3 linked regions of the Homo sapiens genome follow. The protein of the gene in region 2 purifies or fractionates together with the protein of the main gene of each other region. This does not show direct contact. Each region holds a gene or a part of one and is shown on either strand. Other genes may lie near its edges. The genes, in order: ISOC1, PITPNA and MLKL.

Evidence for each region.
Region 1: the proteins of PITPNA (region 2) and ISOC1 fractionate together in Homo sapiens (co-fractionation; one large-scale study listed by BioGRID). This does not show direct contact.
Region 3: the proteins of PITPNA (region 2) and MLKL purify together in Homo sapiens (affinity purification with mass spectrometry; one large-scale study listed by BioGRID and IntAct). This does not show direct contact.

What each region holds. Positions count from the first base shown.
Region 1 is NC_000005.10:129,108,133-129,111,781, reverse strand, and holds part of ISOC1 (isochorismatase domain-containing protein 1), read right to left. Parts: intron 1-3,649.
Region 2 is NC_000017.11:1,538,789-1,542,437, forward strand, and holds part of PITPNA (phosphatidylinositol transfer protein alpha isoform), read right to left. Parts: intron 2,853-3,649; coding exon 2,778-2,852; intron 165-2,777; coding exon 81-164; intron 1-80. UniProt on the Homo sapiens protein: Catalyzes the transfer of phosphatidylinositol (PI) and phosphatidylcholine (PC) between membranes. Shows a preference for PI and PC containing shorter saturated or monosaturated acyl chains at the sn-1 and sn-2 positions.
Region 3 is NC_000016.10:74,698,010-74,702,137, forward strand, and holds the start of MLKL (mixed lineage kinase domain-like protein), read right to left. Parts: upstream 2,854-4,128; 5' UTR 2,444-2,853; intron 1-2,443. UniProt on the Homo sapiens protein: Pseudokinase that plays a key role in TNF-induced necroptosis, a programmed cell death process. Does not have protein kinase activity.

The sequences.
Region 1 (3,649 bases), on a different chromosome or scaffold from region 2:
AGAAAGGAGAAGGCAAAGGGGAAAGAAGGGAAGGAAGAGAGCAAAGAACAGAAAGTCGGGGGTAAAGGGTAGAGAGAGGAAAGGAGGAAAATAGAAGAATTCTATAGCACAGATTCATTCTCTGGATTTATGTGTTATCAGAAATCCCAGGGAAAAAAAAGACACAAACTGTTATCACAAAAAGCATATATGTAAAAAGCATGAAAGAGGAAGTGGTTGGAAACAATTCCTAGGTAAGTCAGAGGCAAAAACCCAGGAAGCCCTTGCATAGCCAAAATATCCTTGCAGAGTGTAAGTCAGTCTTCCTTCAATGGCTGTACATCAGCAGACTGAACCTTTCCACTGGCAGACTCTTTATTTTTATCCGTAATGAAGTATAAGGGAGTATAAGCCATAACCTACTTGTCAGAAAGCAAGCTTGGACCTTAATGACCAGTACAGAAAAGGGTGCAGAGCAGCTAACCAGAACTTTGCAGCAATTTTTTAAAAAAAACAAAATAAAACAAAACAAAAACAGCAGCTATTTATGGGGGGGTTGGGGGCCTGGAGTAAGGCCATAAGCTCAGACACACACCAGGGGTGAGTTATCTCTGAGTATTTTTTTAAGACTTCTGGAAGCCCTAATTTCCTCCTCCTTGCTTTATAGTCAGCTGATTAATCATATCAAAACCATTCAAAAATATGAAAAGATCGTGTGCTTGCTTCAGACAGAAAGGCAGATAATAAATATGATAAGCTGCAGTCCAGTTGTGTGAAAACAGCACTGAATGTCAAGTCATTCATGTCCAGCTCTCCCCATCACCAGCTGCCTGCCCTGCTCAGCCCTGCCTTCCTTACTGCTCACTGTTGAATCAATGGACTTGCAATGATTCAGTCTGAATCAAGGACTAAATCACAGGCTTTCAATGTCTGTGAGAGTGCTTTACACTGTATACTCCAATGTGCCAATAAAGGTTAGTTCTCGATAATCTCCCCAGTTCCTTAGTGAGACAGGAAAGATAAATCTGTTCCCAGGTCTAAGGAAGGAATCTGGTGACGCTACAAGAAGCCTGTCTACAATGCCCAGCACTCCCTAGTGCTCTACTGACCTGAGCCTAACAAGCCTCAGTGATGCTGAGACTCAGGTGGCCATAGCAGGGGCAGAGTGGGAAGTGTACATCACAGAAATACATTTTAGGAAAGTGACACCCATACACTATCACTTTGCTTCAAGATTGAAATGTGGCCAACACTGACTGGGTTTTAAAATCATCTAGCCAGGAACCTGTGTTAGGGAAAGGTGTAGCTTAGCAAATGCAATGGTTTTCAATCTGGCTCTTAGCCATTCCCACAATGCCTGCCCTTTCCCAACCAAAGAACGTGCCTGAGCAGAGAAAGAACAGCAGGAGCTTTCCAGACATACCTAGCAAGTCCCTGCCCACCATCCTGACAATGCTGGTCCCAAGTCCACTTTCTCTCCTGGCTTAAAAAGGGGCAGTTAAAACTCCAGCCATTTAATGCACACAGGTACATGTGCATTAGACTTCTGAAGTTCTCCCCTTACACTTGCAAAACTAATCCAACTAGGCCAAAGGAAAAGAAGGATTGCTCTGACCCACAAACCTAAAAAATGCATGTGCACTAAGTCATGAAAGCCTCAGAGAGGGGGGAAAAAGACTAAACCCATTAGATTTCCAAGCAACACTAAAACTCCCCGGAAGTACAAGGACATCAAGGTCAAGAGAGGATTTTATTCTCTTATTCTTCATGCACTCTACAATTGTTAATTGAAAGGAGTAATGTCTTTCAGATGACAAATACCCAGAAAACATTTCTTGAATAAAGCACATGCCACAGACCCTGGTACAGTGAAGTTTCAATAATGCAAACTATGAATCTTAAAATAATCTTAACAGGCAATATAGCTAGTCTTGGGAATTATCTTCAGTAGTTATGTTCTACAGGAATAGAGAGGAAGGGGAGAGGACCACAATGGTATTTTAACTTTCACACTTATGGAAACAAACCAGAACACTTAACATTGCCCCCTTCCTCAAATTTAGGAACAAGGTATATCGCCTCCGTATCAAATCAAGACTAAAAGGAAAAAAATCTGCAATATGGCAGGTGTTCCCTATCAATCACCACCTGACTTATCTATGATCGGTTTTCCCTTTCAACCTCAACACTTTAACCCCAGGCAATGTTGGTGCTCCAGGCCCTTCCAAATCCACCCCAGACAACAGATTCTTTCCCTCCCTTCTCAGAACTTCCAAGAACTAGTCCCTTCTGGGTCTTAGAGGTTATATACTTACACATTTCTGGTGACTAACCACGTGAAGACAACAATCAGTAACAACAAAAAAAGCAGCAGCTAACATCTGAGTATTTACTATGTCATGCACTGTCCTAACTGCTATCAATATATTATCTCATTCCATTCTCACAAAAATCCTATGATCTTGTTGCTATTATCATTTCCATTTCACCAATGAGAAATCTGAGGCATAGAGATTACACAACTTGCTCAAAGTCACAAATTTACAAAACACCAGAACCTGCCTTCAAACCCACATTATCCCCACATTGTGTGGATTCCTAATCCGAGAGATTACAGATTGCCTCTAAAAAGAATGGTTCAGATGGGAATTGTTTTTAATCTTGAGTCTTGTGCAAAGACAGAATTGCCAATCAAAATTTTGTCATTAAGTTGCCATAACAAAGACATATCTAAGAAAATATGAATGTAGGAGAAAAGTCCTTGAAAAAAGTCCTTTTTTACAAGCAAGGAAGTTTGTTTTGTGTTTTTCATTTTTTATTTCCAAAGTTCTGGACCTCAGCATTACAATAAAGGTTTATCCACAGTGGCTGAAAGAGCTGCTGGCTGAGGTGGTGAGGACCTGACAATGAAGTATTTAAACTCAGGTTACCAGGAAAACCTGAAAAGTAGGAATTGATTAACTCATGACTATAAGAATAGATTAAAGGTCTGACCGGGCACAGTGGTTCACACCTGTAATCCCAGCACCTTGGGAGGCCGAGGCAAGTAAATCACCTGAGGTCAGGAGTTCGAGACCAGCCTGGCCAACATGGCAAAACCCCATCTCTACTAAAAATACAAAAATTAGCCGGGTGCAGTGGCAGGCACCTACAATCCCAGCTACTCGGGAGGCTGAGACAGGGAGAACTGCTTGAACCCAGGAAGTGGAGGTTGCAGATGAGCCAAGATTGTGCCACTGCACTTCCAGCCTGGGCGACAAAGCAAGACTCCATCTCTCAAAAAAAAAAAAAAGAAATGGATTAAAGGTCTTTGTTGAGATTGGAAGAAGCAGCAATACTTAGTACCTAACTACCAGATAATCTAATAGCCTAATGGACTTGAAAATAGCTAAACAAAATAAATAATTTCTATTTGTAATCTCAGTATAGGATTCTGCTTCAGCAATAACAGAGAAGGGAGAGCCAATAAGGACCCTAAAACACCTGCTGTGGCCAGCTACCTGCCTGCTTCCCACCACCCTGTGGCCCTGTACTCATCCCTTCTTTCCTCTGATAAGGCCCTCCCCTTTCTCATTTGCTCTACCTTACCACCCTGGGGAACACAGTAGGCTAAAGGGATGAGTTAGCATTCCTACTACAGACAAGGCAGTTCACAGGCCAGACTGTGCAT
Region 2 (3,649 bases):
GTATGGTTTCCTGGTTTCTTTAGCATTGAGAAGTCATTTCTGCGTCTCGAAGGCCACCCACGTCTTTAAACGGATCCTACCTTGCTGAGCACTTGGCTTCGATCTGCAATGTCTATATATACGGCTTCCACGTGTTTCCACGCCTCAGGCTCCAGCTTATGCACCTGTGGGAACAAGTGGGGAACCACTATGCAGTTTTTGTCAGTTATAAAATATCCTTTAGCCAGAATGGACACCTAGGAACTGCCATTCCCATAGCCACAGATGTAAGATTCCTAATGATAAGTAATTATACAATTACATACAAAATTATCCAAAGAAATGGGAGAATGGATTTTTTTTTTTAAGAGATGGGGTCTCACCGTGTTTCTCAGGCAATGGCTATCCACAGGAGTGATCACAGCACACTCTAGCATGAACTCCTGGGCCGGAGTGATCCTCCTGCCTCAGGCTCCTAGTGATCCTCCTGCCTCAGCCTCCTGCCTGGGACCGAGGGATCCTACTGTCTCAGCCTCCTGCCTAGGCCCGAGTGATCCTCCTGTCTCAGTCTCCTGAGGAGCTGGGCCCGAGTGATCCTCCTGTCACAGCCTCCTGAGGAGCTGGGCCCGAGTGATCCTCCTGTCACAGCCTCCTGAGGAGCTGGGCCCTAGTGATCCTCCTGTCACAGCCTCCTGAGGAGCTGGGCCTGAGTGATCCTCCTCTCTCAGTCTCCTGCCTGGGCCTGAGTGATCCTCCTGTTACAGCCTCCTGAAGAGCTGGGCCCGAGTGATCCTCCCGTCTCAGCCTCCTGAGGAGCTGGGCCCGAGCAATCCTCCTGTCACAGCCTCCTGAGGAGCTGGGCCCGAGTGATCCTCCTGTCTCAGCCTCCTGAGGAGCTGGGCCTGAGTGATCCTCCTGTCTCAGCCTCCTGAGGAGCTGGGACTATAGGTGCACAACACTGAACCCAGCTGGATTGTCTGTTTGTCTGAGATGGAGTCTTGCTGCGACGCCCAGGCTGGAGTGCAATGGCGCGATCTCGGCTCACTGCAAACTCTGCCTCCCGGGTTCAAGCGATTATCCTACCTCAGCTTCCCGAGTATCTGGGATTACAGGCGTGGGCTACCACGCCCAGCTAATTTTTGTATTTTTAGTAGAAACAGGGTTTCACCATGTTGGCCAGGCTGATCTCAAACTACTGACTTCAAGTGTTCCACCCGCCTTGGCCTCCCGCCCAGCCCCCGCTGGATTTTAAGTGACATGACTGAGAACGAATGCTCTGACTATTGAGGGTAAACGTCACTTCTGCAGGTCAAAACGCCTTCCGGATGTTTACGGTGCCCACACCATTTCCATGTGTTCCCGGCTGTACAGACTGTAAACCCTTCTAGAGATGGTGTCTGTTTAGCAACATGCTGACCCGCTGTAAAGACTGTAAACCCTTCTAGAGATGGCGTCTGTTTAGCAACATGCTGATTATTTTGATCAGGCTGTACATGCACATAATACAAAATTATGACACAAATTCAAAATTACAAAAGGATACAATATAGAGTAACTAGAGTAACTCCTCTTCTTGCTTGTCCCTCGTCCCCAGTCTAGTAACAGCCACCTCTAAGAGATCCTACATACAAACATCCATGTGCGTGGATTTTTCTTTTAATATGAAGGGCGGCATGCACACACCTTGTTTCATAACTTCCATCCTTCACTGAACAGTCAACTTGAAGACTGCTCTCTATTGGTTTTTCCATGGCTGCAAGGATGTCACTATTTGGCTGAACCACAATGCATTTAACGTTGTCCTACTAACGGGCCTTTTTTTTCTCTTTTTTTTTTTTTAAGACAGTGTCTCGCTCTGTCACCCAAGTTGGAGTACAGTGGCGTGATCTCGGCTCACTGCAAGCTTCGACTCCCGGGTTCACGCCATTCTCCTGCCTCAGCCTCCTGAGTAGCTGGGACTACAGGTGCCCGCCATGAAGCCTGGCTGTTTTGTATTTTTAGTAGGGACAGGGTTTCACCGTGTTAGCCAGGATGGTCTCGATCTCCTGACCTCGTGATCCGCCTGCCTCGGCCTCCCAAAGTGCTGGGATTACAGGCGTGAGCCACCGCACCCGGTCTAACGGGCTCTTATGTTGTTTTTTTGTTTTTGGAGACAGGGTGTCACTCTGTTGCCCAGGCTGGAGTGTGGTGGTGCAGTCACAGCTCACTGCAGCCTTGACTTCCCAGCCTCAAATGATCCTCCAGCCTCGGCCTCCAGAGTGGCTGGGACCACAGGCACATACCACCATGCCCAGCTAATTCTTTTTTTATTTTTGGTAGAGACAGAGTCTTGTTATGTTGCCCAGGATGGTCTTACATTGTTTTTGATCTTTGGCTACACAAAGAAGACTGCAATGAGTCTCCTTGTATATATGTTATTTCACACATGTGAAAATAACTGTCTAAATTCTTGGGCATGGAAATGCTAAAGGATAGGTGTATTTTATTTTTTGGGAGTTACTGCAAATTGTGCTCTATAGAAAACTGTAATTTTGGTCTTTTAAAGATATAGCTCCCATGTACCAGGAACTGCACCAATCCAAGCAGTACGAGAAGGCCCCATAAAAAGTTCCGGAGATCACATTTTGCAAATCAGAGACATAGCAATCCCATGCTGGTAAGATAGGTCTAGGCAGAGGCCACTGCCTTCCCGGCCAGGCAAAAGAGGACCACAGAGAGGACCCCATGGTAGCCCTGGAGAGGCTACAAGGCAGAGACTCAAGACCTCACCCCTGGGGCTTTTGGGAACTACTACTCACATTCTCCTGCGTGCCAAGATCTGGTTTGTGCCAGGTTTCAATTTTAATCAGAAAGTCTTCTTTCATGTACTCATTCTGGAAGAAGGAAAAAAAATACATGAAAGTCACTAGGTTCACAGTTGAGAGTAACCATCTCCCATTACTGGAGATGGGCATTACTGGATCATGGGCAGCTAGGAGATTCCAGCCTCTGCCTTGTAATAACAGTTAACTTGACTGGGAGCCCACGACACACTAGGCATGTATTATCCCATTCAATCCTCACCCCAGCCTGAGAGCTCTGTAGAATCACCCTCATTTTACAGATGAGGTTCAAAGAGGTTAGGTGACTTAACCAAAGTCACAGAGATCGGGCCAGGCATGGTGGCTCACGCCTGTCATCTCAGCACTTTGGGAGGCCGAGGCGGGCGGATCACTTGAGGTCACAAGATCGAGACCAGTCTGGCCAACAGTGGTGAAACCCGTCTCTACTAAAAATACAAAAATTATCCAGGCATGGTGGCGGGTGCCTGTAATCCCAGCTACTCGGGAGGCTGAGGCAGGAGAATCGCCTGAACCCAGGAGGCAGAAGCTGCAGGGAGCCGAGATTGCACCACTGCACTCCAGTCTAGGAAACAACAGCAAGACTCCGTTTCGAAAAAAAAAAAAAAGTCACAGAGATCACGACAGAGTTGGGTCTCAAAACAGTTTCGTCTGACTTCAGAATCCATGCATTTAGCCACTCTGGGTAGTAAGCAGTGTGGAAAGAGCACAGAAGACTTCCTAACCCATCGAAGATACTCACCATGGCCCCTTTCCCTCCAACTAGCCTGTGGCTAAGGCCTTAAGTTTTCTTCTCAGTAACTGAACCCTTCAAGCTAATTATTGCCTCC
Region 3 (4,128 bases), on a different chromosome or scaffold from region 2:
CCTGGGCAACATGGTGAAACCCTGTCTCTACAAAAAAATACAAAAATTTGCTGGATGTGGTGGTGCTTGCCTGTAGTCCCAGCTACTCTGGAGCCTGAGGAGGGAGAATTGATTGAGGCTGGGAGGTCGAGGCTGCAGTGAGCCATGATTGTGCCACTGACTCCATTCCAGCATGGGCAACAGAATGAGACAGTGTCTCAAAAACACCACCACCACCACCACTAACAAACGACAACAAAAAACAAAGTTAGTTTTTTTTTTTTTAACAGCTCAGTGAAATAGGTAGGTTAAGTATTATCGCCAGTTTATGGATTAATTAGCAGCTTGGAGAAAATAATTGGCCTGGAGCCCAAGTATGGCTTTAAAACATGAGTAAGGCACTGGCAGAAGTGAAACTAAATAAATGAGCAATCGATATAGTTGTGTTTTTGTTGCCTGAGAGTTACAGTGATTGGGCAAGGGAGGTAACAGTTATTAGGGCACTCCTAAAAAGACTAGTGGATCTCAGACTACCCAGCTATTCCCACGTGCTAAGCAGATATCTTCAAGGCCATTTCTTGGGAATTGTGAGGGCAAAAGGTTTTACACTTTCTCTGTTGCACCAGAAACAGAAGCAAATGTGGCAATGTTGTTCAAGGAATCTTGCAAATTGTAGCTTCCTAGCTCTAAGCTCCAGTTATCTTACCAGCAGCCTCATCAGAAAGCCATATCTCAGCACTGAACTAATCAGAAAGGAAAATGGGGAAAATATCCCACCCATAGAACTGACAAACAATTTCAAATAATAAATTATACAGTGGTGGCATGGTATGAAGAAAATTGCAGCGGTCACATTGGCTCATGCCTGTAATCTCAGCGCTTTGGAAGGCCGAGGCAGGTGGATCACCTGAGGTCGGGAGTTTGAGATCGCCCGGCCAACATGGTGAAACCCCATCTCTACTAAAAATACTAAAATTAGCCAAGCATGGTAGCAGGCGCCTGTAATCCCAGCTACTCGGGAGGCTGAGGCAGGAGAATTGCTTGAACCCGGGAGGTGGAGGTTGCACTGAGCCGAGATCACACCACTGTGCTCCAACCTGGGCAACAGAGCAAAACTCCGTCTCAAAAACAAAAACAAAAACAAAAAAAAAGAAAGAAAGAAAATTGCACAAAACAAAGCTTGAAGAAAGGAGGAAAGAGAAGTGTTATATTTCTGGCTGGGAAGACTAAAACAGACCAACCCAGCAATCCTTCCCAAATTTAAATCCAATTTAATGCAGTTCCAATAAAACATCTACTGACATATTTTGGCATTAAATCAAAATGATCCTAAAGTTCATTTGAAATGGGAAATTAGTAGGGATAACCAGGATTTTAAAAAATAAAGAAAAGGGGACTTGCCTGTATGAAATTAAAATATATTAAAAACTGCAAAATATTGGGAAAAAGCACCCTACAATAACTTAAATTGTTTAAGGTCTTATTAAGTATATGATCTACAAGGGAAGAAAGGGAATATACATATATACACACTTAGACTGGGCAATTTGAATTTCTAGGAACTTATGATGTAGAAAAGCTTGTGTTTGTAGATAGATGGCTACCGAGATGTTCACTGCAGTGCTATTTATAATATGTAAAACAAACAGCTAAGAATATGTTCAGGCCAGCTGCAGTGGCTCACACCTGTAATCCCAGCACTTTGGGAGGGTGAGGTAGGAGGATCACCTGAGCCCAGGAGTTTGAGACCAGCCTGGGTGACAAAGCGAGACCCTGGCTCTACCAAAAAATACAAAAAAAATTTAATTGGGTGTGGTGATGTGCACCTTGTAGTCCTAGCTACTTGGGAGGATCTGGTTGGAGGATCACTTGAGCCCATGAGTTCGGAGGCTGCAGTGAGCTATGATTGTGCCACTGCGCTCCAGCCTGGGCAACAGAGGAAGACTCCATCTCTCAAAATAAATAAATAAAAAGAAAAAGGGGATTATGTTCATATGTTACGATGAGAAAACAGGTTACTAATTTTAAAAGTGAAAAATCTTTAAATGGTAATAACAATGCAAATTCACCTCTTCCCTCCAAAAAATAAAAAATAAAAATAAAATAAAATAAGTAAAGGTTATCAGGCATTTCCCTCTTCTCTCTCTCTCACTCTGTCTCTCTCTCACGCCTTCAGCCTGCAAACCTGAAGACTTCCTTTTTCTGAGAAGACATCAGGTAACTTGTTCCCGTGCCCCTGCCCTCCACGACCCCCACTGCTACTGGGCGTCTCGCTTTGGCGGAAGGTAGTGCGAGATCCGAGCAGGCAGCTCCACCATCAGAGCTGAGGAAATGAAACCAACTCGGTCCTGAGTTCCAGGAACTCGGACCGGGCCACCCTCACCCCTGGTTCTTCCCATCACCGTCCAGGAATTCGGCTGCAGCCCCTCGGCCCCGCCGCCTCCTGGGAAGACCCCATGCTCACCTTCGCGCCTCCCGAGGGGTGTGCGTCCAATCTGTCCCGTGCACAGTTCCAAAAAGCTCGCTCTTCCACCTTCTTTCCCACGACCGCCTCCTGCCCAGGCGAGAAGTTTGCAAACGCGAGGCCCGCGGGAGTTCCCCTGCGCCCCCTTTCCTGGTGCCCGCACCCTGCACTCTGCTGACTGTACCGGACGCCACACGTGGCTGGCGGCGACAAGGCGCCCCGATCCCTACCTGAGGGAAACCCCGGCCACTGCAGCTGCACTTGAGCAGGGTCCCTCCACTCAGCCACTTGGATGGCTGTTTCTGTCCAGTGCCCTCCGGAGGCCACTGCCTCAGGTCTGTGATGCCTGCAGAGAATGCTGCGACACTTCCCCCTCCGACGTGGCTCCAGCTGCCAACCACCAGGCTCACGGTGCCCTGGCTCCCTGGAGCCGCTTTCTAGGCAGCTCGGAGCCACGGCCCCTCCCTTCCTTCCTCCTGTCCTTTCCACACTCTTCCTGCCTTCCCCAAAGTCACTGGGTAACTACGCTGTACACGTCAGTACCAAGCCTTCTTTAGGGGCTGGGGATTCAGAATAGAATAAGGTCCCAGCAACTATTATAACCAGGACACAGTATGAGAAGGACTGGAAGTTTAGAGAAAAACTGAAAGTTGGAGAGAAGCTTCTGGTGTTTGCTTCTCTGTGCTGGATAATATTGGCGGGGTGGGGAGGGTACGAGGGAAGAGACACCAAAGTGGGAAAAAAGTCACTTCCTCTTCTAAGGTCATTGCAGAACATCCTGTTACAGTGTGAGTCAGGTTTTCTTAAGATTAACTACATCTTCAGCTAGAAAGTCTAAGTAGTGTTATGCATTTACTCAACAGACTATTTGCCTCTAAAAGAACAGAACTGGGAGCTGGGTGTGGTGGCTCATGCCTGTAATTCCAGCACTTTGGGAGGCGGAGGTGGCCAGATCACCTGAGGTCAGGAGTTCAAGACCATCCTGGCCAACATGGGGAAACCCTGTCTCTACTAAAAATACAAAAATTAGCCAGGCGTGGTGGTGCATGCCTGTAATCCCAGCTACTCGGGAGCCTGAGAGGGGAGAATCGCTTGAAGCCGGCCTTGGAGATTCATTTCTTCGCCTTGCTATTGTTCTTCGTCTCCTGCATCATCAGTTTTCTTCCTGTCTTAGGTGAAGAGATTGAGGTGAGGCAGGAGAATAGGGTCTGCAGGCAGGGAACATAAAGCTGATTCACGCTGACTTCTTAGAACTAAATAAAATGGACACATTTCAGCTATGACAGGAAATATTTTCTTCATTTACATATGGCGTTCACTGAGTAAGTGACTGAGCAACTTCACTTCATCTTCTTCATTTACATAGGGTGTACACCAATTAACCAATGGGAGCCTCTAGAGGGTATTTAAATCCCAGAAAATTCTGTAACGGAGTTCTTGAGCCCCTATGCTCACGCTGGCTCCCACCCTGTGGAGTGTACCTTTGTTTTCAATACATCTCTGCTTTTGTTGCCTCATTCTTTCCTTGCTTTGTGCATTTTGCCCATTTCTTTGTTCAAGATGCCAAGAACCTGGACACCTTCAACAAGTAACACAGGTGCCTGTGATTTATTGAAGGAAGACTCTTAGGAGAGTGGTGGGTATGATAGGGCAGAGGAAGAAAAAGTGAAACAAGTATGTAGTCA